Linked DNA regions of Homo sapiens. The protein of the gene in region 1 binds, or shares a complex with, the protein of each later gene. Each region holds a gene or a part of one and is shown on either strand. Other genes may lie near its edges.

The links. Proteins that work in one complex are often made in the same cells at the same time.
Region 2: HEATR3 (region 1) and RPF2 share a complex: the UniProt entries of both Homo sapiens proteins name them as parts of the hexameric 5S RNP precursor complex.

The regions. Positions count from the first base shown.
Region 1 is NC_000016.10:50,082,945-50,089,971, reverse strand, and holds part of HEATR3 (HEAT repeat-containing protein 3), read right to left. Parts: intron 6,036-7,027; coding exon 5,945-6,035; intron 5,865-5,944; exon of another isoform or gene 5,839-5,864; coding exon 5,681-5,838; intron 5,404-5,680; coding exon 5,321-5,403; intron 3,758-5,320; coding exon 3,621-3,757; intron 1-3,620. UniProt on the Homo sapiens protein: Plays a role in ribosome biogenesis and in nuclear import of the 60S ribosomal protein L5/large ribosomal subunit protein uL18 (RPL5). Required for proper erythrocyte maturation.
Region 2 is NC_000006.12:111,006,032-111,013,058, reverse strand, and holds part of RPF2 (ribosome production factor 2 homolog), read right to left. Parts: intron 5,022-7,027; coding exon 4,922-5,021; intron 2,839-4,921; exon of another isoform or gene 2,796-2,838; intron 1,228-2,795; exon of another isoform or gene 1-1,227. UniProt on the Homo sapiens protein: Involved in ribosomal large subunit assembly. May regulate the localization of the 5S RNP/5S ribonucleoprotein particle to the nucleolus.

The sequences.
Region 1 (7,027 bases):
ATCTCTAGGACGGGCACGGTGGCTCATGCCTGTAATCCCAGCACTTTGGGAGGTCGAGGCGGGTGGATCACAAGGTCAGGAGTTCAAGACCAGCCTGACCAACATGGTGAAACCCGTCTCTATAAAAATACAAAAATTAGCTGGGCGCATTGGCAGGCACCTGTAATCCCAGCTACTTGGGAGGCTGAGACAGGAGAATTGCTTGAACTTGGGGGGCAGAAATTGCAGTGAGCCAAGATCGTGCTACTGTACTCCAGCCTGGGCAACAGAGTAAGACTCCATCTCAAATAAAAGAAAAAAAAAGAATATCATCTCCAAATATAAGCGATTATCCTTTATCAAATTCATTCTGATAAGAAAACATTCTGTTACTCCAAAATAAATAACAATGACACTACTTTTCAAGTCATTTTGATTCTCCATTTCTCCGAATGCCAATATTAGGTGATACGAAGGCCACAGATGGGATACGAGTATGGGCCCCAAGCAAGCTGGACAGCCCAGAGGTATTGTAATGGCCCTCTTCCCCCAGCAGTAACCATCCAAACCCATTACATAGGCAAGGCCAATTCAGACTACCAATCCCTGGAAGTAACTGAGCACATGTCATTAGGTGAATACATTTTCAAAATTACTGTTGTGACAGTAACGTGTGGTAGGCGATTTCTACATAAATATCATCAAGACCCTCAGGATACACAAAAGCATTCTTAACCTAGCAGCATGTCACATTCCTGAACCTTAAAAAAAAAAAGATGATGTCAAGAATAGACATGAAATGGGAATTTATTTAAAATCAAAGTGCTTAGTTATATTTTCCCACAATTCAGAAACTTTCCATTATTTCTCCAGGACTCAGCTTGGGGCAGTTTTCCTGTGATCTTTGCAGTTAATAAATGTGCTGGCCTCAGTGACCACAAATAACCAGCAGAACCAAGAGAAACATATCTGAGTGCTTTCACTATAGCACAGGCACACAGGGAGTTTGTTTCAAGTGAAATAACCTCTGTGTGCTGCCTGGGGATGGGACCGGGGGTACCTGGACCAGACTCTCAGTGAGAAATGGCCCAGAGCTGAGAGATGGCAGCTTGTGGAACCAGGGCTGCCAGGGTTACCTAGAGCTTAGGTAGGGCTTGGAAGCAGTGAGAGACTTGGGGTCCTGCTCACCTGGGACCCTGGCTGTGGACTCCCTGCCTGGCTCTGCCCCCTGCCTCTACTCAGGGGAATGGGTGGGGGTGGGCATGAGCAACAGCAGCCCTCTCACTCCCACCCCACAGGACATCTTGCTGGGCTGATGGGAGCCAGAATGCTTGCAAAAGTTGGGGAAAGTCCCCTCCCCGTTTACCATCCAGATCTCTTCCAGGTTTAGGAGGCTAGGAGACAAATACAAAGCTACAGCCATCATCTGGTCTGCTCACACTGACGAGCTGCCTCTGTACTCCAGTGCTTGTCCCGTCCTGCCCTGGAATGGGAATGGGACTAGCACTGCCCATATCCTGACTATATCCTGTCCTGGGCATGGCTGGGCACAGCTTTCATGGGATCATTCCAGCCAATGAATGCACAGCCAGGGAGTACTTGAAAGGTACACCTGTTAACTGATCAATGTTGAAAGGGTGGCAGAGACAGCTCAGTAACCACATATGGGTTTCTGAATATTTAATTACTTAATTTTTAAAGATTAATTTAGAACTTAAAAAACATGTACCATTAAACACACAGCACCTCTTAGGAACTTGACGGAATGTAAAACAGATGTCTAAAGAACTGGGGACCAACACTTGAATGGATGTTGACACAAAAACTTGTATTTAGTTAAAAGTGACTCTCTTTTGATTTTTTTTGAAACGGAGTTTCACTCTTGTTGCCCAGGCTGGAGTGCAATGGCGCGATCTTGGCTCACCACAACCTCCGCCTCCCGGGTTCAAGCGATTCTCCTGCCTCAGCCTCCCGAGTAGCTGGGATTACAGGTGCCTGCCACCACGCCTGGCTAATTTTTGTATTTTTAGTAGAGACAGGGTTTCGCTATGTTGGCCAGGCTGGTCTCGAACTCCCAACCTCAGGTGATCCACCCGCCTCGGCCTCCCAAAGTGCTGGGATTACAGGTGTGAGCCACCGCGCCTGGCCTGATCTTTTAAGAGTTCAATTCTTGGACTTAATGTTGTGTCTGAAAAGGAGGATAAAATATATGAAGAATACACTGAATATAACACAATGGAATTATCTTATTTGCCAGTGTAGAAAGCAAATATCTTCACGTTTACCCTCAAAAAATCCTGAAAGACACCTGGAACCTCAGCAGCTGAGAGAGAGGGGCAGATTCCCACCTCCCAGGCTACCCTCGCTCCAGCAATGGATACTGGGTGGAGTAATGTGGAGAGTTTTCCTTCAGTATAGAAAACACCACTTGTTCTTCTCTCTCAGTCTCTCTTGTTTTTGTTTGGTTTGAGCTCCTATAGTTTAATGTGGTCAAATTAAGTAAGATTTTACTATGAGGAACTATGAAAATCTGTTAGAAGAACATGCATTGGACTTTGTACAGCTAGTTTTTGTTTTTTTTGTTTTTCCCTCCAAGTGAAACCTACAGCTAGGTCATTTAAAAGAATATTTAATTTAACTCTTGTATCGCTATAGATCTTTGTGTGCATATGAAATTAATCCGTATCAGAGACCTGTAACTTAAGAGAATCAGCTCCTACCATGCAAAGGTGTTTGAAGAAAGATACATGTTAGATGATGGCAAGGTGTAGAATTGTGTGGATGGTATTCTACCATTTGCCTTACACACACGCACGCATGCCCGCATACACACGCTCTCTTATACATGGAGAATCTCTCTGGAAGGATACACAAGTAACTGGTGCAACAGTAACTTGACTCTGGGAGAGGAACTGGGTGTCGGAGAAAGGAGGGAGGCTTTCCAGTTTCTGTCCTCTAATAACTTTTGAATTCTGTACTACATACATATATTAATCAAACTTAAATGCTTGTAACTGGGAAGAAAATAATAGAATAGTACTCAATTATTATTATTATTATTTTGAGATGGAGTTTTGCTCTTGTTGCCCAGGCTGGAGTGCAATGGCACAACCTCAGATCACTGCAATCCCCACCTCCTGGGTTCAAGCGATTCTCCTGCCTCAGCCTCCCGAGTAGCTGGGATTACAGGCATCTCCACCACCACGCCCAGTTAAAGTTTTGTATTTTAGTAGAGCGGTTTCATCATGTTGGCCAGGCTGGTCTCCAACTCCTGACCTGAGGTGATCCTCCCGCCTCGGCCTCCCAAAGTGCTGGGACTACAGGCATGAGCCACCGTGCTTGGCTGAGAATTATCCAAATACCTTAATGAGGCCTTTATGATATTTATGATACAGCCTTGACTGGCCTGATATAACTGGATGCAAACAATTTTAACAAAAAAGAAAATTATAAGCCCAGGAGCTGCTTGCATACCTCGTTTTGACTCTGTACCCCATGGCAACTATAAATACATGATTCCTGTGTCTGGGAAAGGTTTCTGCACATTGGATGACAAACAATATACATTTACAAAATCCAAATTCCTGCCCCTTCAAAATTCTGTTCCGTCTGCGTAGTCTTTCGCAATAAAGTCTAAATACCTGGTTGAGAAAAAAGCAGCTGTGACAGATGCTGTGCAAGCGTCTGAAGGGCTGCGGCTCCTCCCAGGTGCTCCACATCCAGGAGGGACACAAGACTCTGGAGACAGAAGAGGGCTCTGCACTGAATAGTGTTCATTCTGGAAAGGAAGTGAAACAATGCCATCTGATTCTCCAGAAGTTGCCCATCAGAATTCAGTATTAACTTTTAGCCTAAGCTTCACGTTCTGACTGGAAATATCTGTAAATACAAGGTATCTATGGCAGTTAGCAAAGAATCACAAGGTGAACTGTTTTTTGTGTTTTCTAAAATTTATCATCATTTTTTAGACAGGGTCTTACTCTGTTGCCCAGGCTGGAGTGCAGTGGTGTGATCACAGCTCGCTGTAGCCTCAACCTCCTGAGCACAAGTGATCCTCCTGCCTCAGCCTCCTAAGGAGCAGGATTACATGTGCATGCAACCACACCTGGCTAAGTTTTTTATTTTTTGTAGATAGGGGTCTTGCTATGTTGCCCAGGCTGCTCTGGAACTCTTGGCCTCAAACAATCCTCCTGCCTGTACCTTCCAAAGTGCTAGAATTATAAGGTGAACTGTTAATCTGCCAAATCAAACTGCTTGAATATTCACGGCCTCTGATACACAACTCATTCATGAGTCATGAGGAATATGTTTTAGAAAAATTTCTATGTAGGGTAGCATCCTTAAAATTATAATTTTCTTCAGACAGGGTCTCATTCTGTTTCCCAGGCTGGAGTACAGTGTCACCATCATAGCTCACTACAGCCTTAGACTGCTGAGCTCAAGCAATCCTCCCACTTCAGCCTCCTAAGTAGCTAGGACTACAGCTGAGTGCCACTATGCCAGGCTAATTTTTGTATTTTTTTTTCCTTTGTAGAGATGGGGTCTTGCTATGCTGCCCAGGCTGGTTTCAAACTCCTGGCCTCAAGTGATCCTCCTACCTTGGCCTCCCAGAGTCCTGGGATTATAGGTGTGAGCCACCATGCCCAGCCTAAAATTATTTTTAATTGTGAAATGTGACATATATACAGTTAAGTACACAACATACATAGAGAGTTTAACAAACAGTCTATGAAACCAAAACCCATGCACCTGGGAAAGAAATTAACACTGCTGGACCCTGAAAGCCCCTGTATCTCTTCCATATAATATCCCACCTCCCTGACACCTACAGGTAAGCACCATACAGACTTCTATGGTAAACATTTCCTTGCCTCTTTTTTTTTTTAATAGGTTTATCACCAAGGTATGCATCCCTGAACAAAATAGTTCAATGTTGCCTGTTTCTCAACTTTGTAAAAACTGAATCACAGTGTGTGTATTCTTTTATGTCTCGCTTTTTTGGTTCAACAATGTAAGTTCCATCCGAGTTGTGAGTAGCTCTAATTCAGATCCCTTTTACTGCTGCATGTATTGTACTGCGTGATTTTGTCAAAATTTATTTACCATTCTAACTCTGATGGACAACACGTTTGTTTATGGGTTGGGGCAACTGTGACACACACTGCTATGAACACTCTCATATACATGTATTCTAGGGCATGTGGGCACATATTTTTCTGGTATATATACCCAGGAACAAAACTTCTGGGTCCTAGGGGGAGTCAGCACCTTCTATTTAATAGCCCATCATTTCATAAAATAAAATAATGACAAATGTTTTTGAAAGCAGAAGAGTTCTTACTTTCTAATCAAAGGTTTCCAAGTAGGGTTCCTAGAACATAGGTCAACTGCAATGCTGTTTGGAAAGGCAGTTTTCTCAAAAATCTAGATTTAAAAGAGGCAGTAAAGCAAAGGTTAAAGAGTAGTCATTTAACACGATTCCCTTACATAATTCCAACATATTACTCCTAAGTGAAATGGTTAGGCTTCATATAGAATGACCTTTTCGCCTATTTCCAGTACTGTTAGGCTCAGCTTTGTCTCAGATCTTACCACCATCTACAACCTGGAAGTGTGAGCTTGCTTCTTTTGTACACAAAATGAATACCTTGCTTAAGCCTTTCCCATGCTCCACGGTAAGCCTAGAATGAAAATGGATTACCTTCTTTGGGATGAGGTAGTTGGTGAGAGCCGTGTGAACTTCATGGGAGAGGCAGAGGGGAGAAAACAGCTGTCCCCCGCACTCACTGAAGGAATTCTCCATAAATGCGTCACTTTCATCACTGCTAGAAAGCTCTTCCCATTCGTCATCAGAGGGATCTGGGAAGCGGGCAAACCACGCAGAACTGGAATAGTTAAGAAAATCTCCACGGGAGTTTCCCTCTTGGCTCAGGGGGAAAATGTCTAAATGTAAATGTTAACAAACCTTCATTGCAGCACATGTTGACAATAATTTCCAGAGCAGTCTGTTGGGCTGTCAGCAATGCTATAGTCTCTCTCAGTTCCTTGTCAGTGGGCTTAAAAAAAAAAAAAAAAGTAAATGACCAACTCTCAATGGTTGGGAAAATGTTTTTGGGGAATTTCCTTAGTGAAAGCCTACTAGAAGATTTTTGCGCTTGGAATAGAGCACACGGGGAATGGGGTAGGTAAAAGAAAAGTCATGAAGTGCCAGAAGTACAAACGAGCATTATAATTCCTCTTGGTACAGTGGAGCATGCCCCCGTTAACTGGGTTTCCATCTATCTGCATGGCTATTCCCCAAGCGTCACTTAGTTAGCTGGAGAGAACAGACAAATATTCAGGAATTCTGAACAGAATTCACCCTGAAACTTATCTACTGTGTCAAGAAGTAGCTGGGCATACTAAGATTTAAACAAGAGTTCATTTCAGACACCAGGCACTTAGAAACACCAAACCTGCTTTTAGATGCTTAGCTTAGATGTCTTTCTTGGAATGGCTGCGCTAACACACACTACTAACGAGCCCTTATGTGACCTGTAGAACTTGCTATGGAGCAGACAGACTTGCTTCCTGCCTTTCTGTAAAGACTATAATAAAGCATTTCTCTAAGACTAAAGAAAGAAGGAAGCTTTTTTTTTCTCTGAAAATATATAACGCCAACTTAAACTTAACATTATCAACCAACATTTCTTAAAATGGGTAATATAAATTTATATAACCTTAATTATCAAATTGTCTATGGAAAGTGAAATAACCATACTGATATTCCAAAACAGTACATGAGCTAAAAATAATGTATATTTTACTATTTGAATATTTCCAAACTTCAGTTTTCAATTGTCTTTTTTTTTCCCCCTTAGAGACAGAGTCTCACTCTGTTGCCTAGGCTGGAGTGCAGTGGCACGTTCATAGCTCACTGCAGCCTCAAATTCCTGGACTCAAGCAATCCTCTTGCCGCAGCCTCTGAGTAGCTAGGGCTACAGGTGCATGCCACCATGCCTGGCTAATTTTTTTAATTTTTGTAGAGACAAGGTCTTAGCCAGGCATG
Region 2 (7,027 bases), on another chromosome or scaffold:
CACTGTTAGGATTTTGACCAAGAAGTATGATAAATAACTTTATGAACTTGATAACCTAAAGTATAATAATACTGTATAAATAAAAGCATGGCTGGGCACGGTGGCTCATGCCTGTAATCCCAGCACTTTGGGAGGCCAAGATGAGTGGATCACCTGAGGCCAGGAGCTTGAGACCAGCTTAGCGAACATGGCGAAACTCTGTCTCTACAAAAAATACAAAAATTATCCAGGCATGGTGGTGAATGCCTGTAATCCCAGCTACTCAGGAGGCTGGGGCAGAAGAATCGCTTGAACAGCTGATGCGGAGGTTGCAGTGAGCCAAGATTGCTCCATTGCACTCCAGCCTGGGTGACAGAGTGAGACTCCATTTCAAAAAATAAACAAATAAGAAATAAAAGCATGTACTTTGGAGAGACCTAAGTTCAAAACTTTAATATGCCACTTGGTAAATGCATGACCTTAGAAAAGCTACTCACCTGTCCAGGCCTCAGTTTTCTCAATTGTATAATGAAAATCAGAATTAAAAATTCCTCTACTCCAAATTTTTTTAAACAACCATATATATAATATGCTACCATTTAAGAAGGGAAGAATAGGCCACGCATGTTGGCTCACACCTCCAACTTTGGGAGGCTGAGGCTGGAGGGCTGCTTGAGCCTAGGACTCTGAGACCAGCCCAAGCAATGCAGCAAGACCTCATGTCTACAAGAAATAAAAAAAATTAGCTGGGCGTGGTGACGTGTACCTGTGGTCCCAGCTACTGAGGGGAATGAGGTAGGAGGATTGCTTGAGACCAGAAAGTTAAGGCTACAGCAGTGAGCCATGATCATGCCACTGCACTCCAGCCTGGGCAACAGAGTGAGACCCTGTCTCAAAAAAAGAAAAAAAAAAAAAAATGATGTAAACAAATTAAGAATGAACAAAATGGGTATCTTGCATGAAAAAAAGTTAACTTTTCTTTCTGGTCAATTAAGAAAAAAAAAAAAAAGGAACTTCCTAAATGAAAGCCCTTCATACATTTCTTGCTCCCTACTGATATTTCATTTGAACACACAACATAAACCAAAGAGCAGTTGTTTTACTTCATATTTATACTGAAAACTCAACTTCCCTTGGTGCCCTACAGTCTGAATCTGTTCCTCTTCTACCTTTCTGCTTCTGTCCAGATTCCTTTTTGGTTTTCACTCCCTTCCCCTCACCACTGCATTATGTGATCATTCCTGCCATCTAGTGGAAGCACAAAATAATGAGAAGGTGGGGCTTATTAAAATACAAAAAACATTTAAACAAATGCAAACAAAAGCTCTCTCTGTTATAACAAATTGTAAGTATCTGCCTCACTGACAATAAACAATTATATGGGAGACCTAGGGGAAAGAGAAAAAGGCAGAAAATCTAGGTCAATGGAGTACAAGTAATGGAAATCTTAGCTGAAAATCTGGCTGACATTTTGGCTGGAAAAATACCCTTGACCAGGCACGGTGGATCACACCTATAATCTCAGCACTTTTGGGAGGCCAGGGCAGGCAGATCACTTGAGGTCAGGAGTTCAAGACCAGCCTGGCTAACATGGTGAAACCCAGTCTTTACTAAAAATATAAAAAATTAGCCGGGTGTGGTGGCATGCACCTGTGGTCCCAGGTACTAAGGAGGCTAAGGAAGAGAATTGCTTGACCCTGGGAGGTGGAGGTTGCAGTGAGCTGAGATCATGCCAGGGCAACAGAGTGAGACTATGTCTCAAAAAAAAAAAGAAAGAAAGAAAGAAAGAAAGAAAGAAAGAAAAATACCCTTGATAATTTGGGATATATAATATTGAGAGAAGGAAATATTAGTCATTGTCTTTCATGTATGAATTTAATTCATGGAAAATATGGATAAGAACCTATAAAGATTCTAGAAGGGATCATGGGAATATGTTTACCACAGGCAAGATGGACAGTAGGGGAAGAAAAGCTCAGGCTTTGGAAGCGTTGGGTTTCAACTTGGCCTTACCTACTTAATAGCTCTCATTTAACTTCTCAGAGCCCCTGTTTGTTTTCCCATCTGTGAAATGGGAATGTCATCAAACTCAAGAACTTTTGTAAAGATTAAACAGATAATAGTGGTTCTTAGTTTCTTTTTTAAAAAGTAGCTATTACTAATACGGGAAATAAATTCTAAAAATTATAATCCCAAGAATGGGTGACGTGTTTTTTTTTCCCCTAAAAATTATAATCCTGACAATAAAGACCATAAATAATCCCAAAAAGGGAAAATGAAAGCAATGTATTTGTCACAGTTTTTTTGGTGGGCTCAGATTTGTAAAGCATGTGCATACAACGTAATTTTATACCCCATCAATTTTTCAAAAGTGATCTACAGCAAAGTATATAAAAATTTAAAACAAGGGTAACAAGAAGTGTAGCATAAGCTTGTAAGCATGGTGCAAGAAAAGCTCAAATGGAATAAAGTAGACAAGGCCACTGAGCATCAGATGGAGGCCTCGCGGCTGTCAACACTAAGGTGAAATAGGACCATAAAGGACTGCTGCTTTGAGAGTATCAGTGTACTGTGCAGGAAAAGCTGAATCTCTCAATCCCCATGAGGGAAAAGAAGCAAAAAATTCAGTAAGAAGATTTTCTTAAATTGGAGAGAGCTAGGTGTGGTGGCTCATGCCTGTAATCTCACCACTTTGGAAAGCTGAGGCAGGTGGATTGCTTGAGCTCAGGAGTTTGAGACCAGCCTGGGCAATACAGGGAGACCCATATCTCTACAAAAAATTAAAATAAAAATTAGCTGGGCATGGTGGTGTGAACCTGTAGTCCCAGCTGCTCAGGAGGTAGAGGACTGCTTGAGCCCAAGAGGTCAAGGCTGCAGTAAGACGTGATCACACCAGTACACTCCAGCCTGGGTGACAGAGCAAGATGCTGTCTAAAAAGAAAAAAAAAAAAGAAAAAAAAAAAAATTGAGGGACAGAGAGACAGACCCAAGACCCTTTAAATTAGTACCAATCTCTTGGAAAATTAAATTACTTTCCAGAGTTATAAAAGAGCTGGCAAATATAATTGCAGAATGCTAAGTACTAATAACCTTTTAAAAATCATGGAGGCTGGGTGTGGGGGCTCACACCTGTAATCCCAGCACTCTGAGGGCTGAAGTGGGAGGATTGCTTAAGCCCTGAAGTTCAAGACCAGCCTGGGCAACACAGTGAGACCCCATCTTACAAAAAATTTTAAAAATTAGCCAGGCATAGTGGCATGTGCCTATGGTCCCAGCTACTTAGGAGGCTGAGGTGGGAGGATCACTTGAGCCTGGGAGGTTGAGGCTGCAATGAGCCATGATTGAGCTACTGCACTCCAGCCTGGGCATCAGAACACGACTTGCCTCATAAAGGAGAAAAAAATAGAAAAGGATGTAGTCCTTATATTCATTACACAAATCATTTAGAACTAGCATAGTTTGCTAGGTGTGGGTTATCTGTAGAACAACCTCACAAGGTTCTTGTTAGAATGAAGCAGTGTATATGAAGTGCCTACTATATGCCTGGCACTTAGGATGATGATGGTAATAAAGTAAAAATGAGCCAGGGCCTGTCGCAGTGGCTCATGCCTGTAATCCCAGCATTTTGGGAGGCCAAGGAGGGTGGATCGCCTGAAGTCAGGAGTTCAAGACCAGCCTGGCCAACATAGCAAAACCCTGTCTCTACTAAAAATAAAAAAAAAATTAGGCCTGGCGCAGTGGCTCACACCTGCAATCCCAGCACTTTGGGAGGGCGAGGCGGGTGGATCACGAGGTCAGGAGATTGAGACCATCCTGGCTAACACAGTGAAACTCCATCTCTACTAAAAATACAAAAATAAGCTGGGCATGGTGGCAGGTGCCTGTAGTCCCAGCTACTCGGGAGGCTGAGGAAGGAGAACGGTGTGAACCCGGGAGGTGGAGCTTGCAGTGAGCCGAGATCGCGCCACTGCACTCTAGCTTGGGCGACAGAGCGAGACTCCGTCTCAAAAGAAATTAGTCAGCATGGTGACGGGCACCTGTAATCCCAGCTACTCGGGAGGCTTAGGCAGGAGAATCGCTTGAACCCGGGAGGTGGAGGTTGCAGTGGGCCGAGATCACACCATTGTGCTCCAGCCTGGGCAACAGAGCAAGACTCTATCTTTAAAAAAAAAAAAAAAAAAGGAGCCAGGAAGGTCACTGAGGGCTTCCCGGAAAAGAAACTTGATGATCTGACACTTAAATGAATAGTAGAAACTGGATAAATAAGAGCAATATCAGAATACACAATAGAAATGTGAATAATATATTGGCAATAAACCCTTTCTAATGGAAAAAAAGAAGGCAATAGGAGATCAAGAAGGCCAAGCTACATTGGTTATATATTGTGAAAGGCCTTGTATATTCAACTCAGAAAAACTAATTAAGGTTTTTGAGTTGGAAGTCGGTGATACAAACAATCTTGAAATTTTAATCCCTCAACTTTCTAAATTTAATTTTAAATGATGCTAGGAATGACAGGAGATGGGTGCAGGAATTTTATAAAACACTATACAAGTAATACCTAAGTTACTAACACATCCAGAAATAATCATCTACACAGTACAACAGCTGCTTTAACTCTCCCGAGATACTTAGGTGCTTTCCTGCTGCTGGTAAGGGAAAAAAAAAAGAGAAAGGTCCAAAAAAAGGAGGAAAAAGAAGTTGTGCTCGCTTCGGCAGCGCATATACTAAAACTGGAACCATACAGAGAAGATTAGCATGGTCCCTGCGCAAGGATGGCATGCAAATTTGTGAAGCACTCCATTATTTTAAGTATATAAATATTATTTTTAAAATAAGAGAAAAAAGAAGTTACAAACCTAAAGTAGCAAAGTGCCACCAGTGAGAGTCTGAGACTGTCTTCCTGAGCTACCCTGAAGATAATAAATACTAAAATACTTACCAATAAGAAGACTTTTTAGTCTTCTATAATCTTCTGTTACATCGAAATCATCGCCAGCAAATATCAGCATGGGTTTTGTTCCCTCAGGACATTTACTGTTCTAAAAAAAAAAAAAAAAAGCAATTATATAATTACCAAAGTCTAAACTGTTTATATATTGATTTTGTTTTTTATTTTTATTTATTTTTTTTGAGATGGAGTCTCACTCTGTCATCCAGGCTGGAGTGCAGTGGCACAATCTCAGCTCACTGCAACCTCCACCTCCCGGGTTCAAGCAATTCTCCTGCCTCAACCTCCTAAGTAGCTGGGACTACAGGTGCACACCACCATGCCTGGCTAGTTTTTTTGTATTTTTCTTACAGACTGGGTTTCATCATGCTGGTTAGGCTGGTCTCAAACTCCTGACCTCAAATGATCCGCCTGCCTCAGCCTCCCAAAGTGCTGGGATTACAGGTGAGAGCCACTGTGCCTGGCCTATACTGATTTTAAAGTAGTCAATACTTTACACTAATTTATTTTCACATTTTATTAACTGTTCCAAAATGATGTCTGTGAATACTGATATTAGAGGCAAAAACAGAGGTGGGTTTTTTTTTCTTTTTAAAGAGACAGGGTCTCGCTGTGTTGCCTAGGCTGGACTCAAACTCTTGGGCTCAAGGCATCCTGCAAGTAGCTGGGACTACAGGTGCAGGCCTGGCTAAGATGACATTTTTAAGCTTCTAGACTTCTATACTAAAAAAAAAATTATTTGTTCCATTCATTTACATTACCAAATAAAAGATGGCAAAAGAATGATGTAAAGGGCTTTTTTAACATTAGTCTACGCAAAGAATAAAATTAAAAGTTACTCTTGCAAAAGGAAAACAAAACAAAACAAAACATAACACAACACAACCAACCAAGCAACCAAAATAGACTTCTGATGGCCAGCAACCCTGAATCAAAATAAATTTAAGGCCAGGTGTGACGGCTCATGCCTATAATCCCAGCACTTTGGGAGGCCAAAGCAGGAAGACAGCTTGAGGCCAGGAGTGAGTTCAAGACCAGCCTGGGCAACACAGTGAGACCTCATCTCTACAAAAAACCTTTTTTTTTTGAGACGGACTTTCACTCTTGCTGCCCAGGCTGGAGTGCAATGGCGCTATCTCGGCTCACCGCAACCTCCACCTCTCAAGTAGCTGGGACTACAGGCATGTGCCACCACGCCTGGCTAATTTTGTATTTTTAGTAGAGATGGGGTTTCTCCATGTTGGTCAGGCCGGTCTCGAACTCCCGACCTCAGGTGATCTGCCCGCCTTGGCCTCCCAAAGTGGTGGGATTACAGGCATGAGCCACTGCAACTGGCCAAAAAAAACTTTTAAAAATTAGCTGGGCATGCTGGTGAGTGCCTATGGTCCCAGCCACTCGGAACGTGAGGTAGGAGGATCGCTTGAGCCTAGAAGGTGGAGGCTGCAGTGAGCCATGATCGTGCCACTGTACTCCAGCCTGGGTGACAGAGTAAGACCTTGTCTCATGAATAAATAAGTTTAATTATAATTTATTTGTACCACTGTGCCTTTCCCACTATACCCTATAAAAAGTATTTTAAAATGAAGGCTATGGGCTGGGCACAGTGGTTCACGCCTATAATCCCACCACTTTCAGAGGCAGAGACGGGGCTGATCACTTGAGGTCAGGAGTTCAAGACCAGCCTGGCCAACATGGTGAAACCCTGTTTCTACTAAAAATAGAAAAAATTAGCTGGGCGTGGTGGTACACGCCTGTAGTCCCAGCTACTCCAGAGGCTAAGGTAGGATAATCGTTTGAACCCAAGAGACAGAGGTTGTAGTGAGCCGAGATTGCACCACTGCACTCTAGCTTGGGTGAGAGCGAGATGCCATCTCAATAAAAAAAAAATGAAGGCTATAGGCTAGGTGTGGTGGCTTACACTTGTAATCCCAGCACTTTAGGAGGCCAAGAAGGGCAGATCGCTTGAGCCCAGGAGTTTGAGACCAGCCTGGGAGACACGGTCTCTACAAAAAAATACAAAACAGGCTGGGCACGGTGACTCACCCTTATAATCCCAGCACTTTCGGAGGCTGAGGCAGGCGCATCACTTGAGGTCAG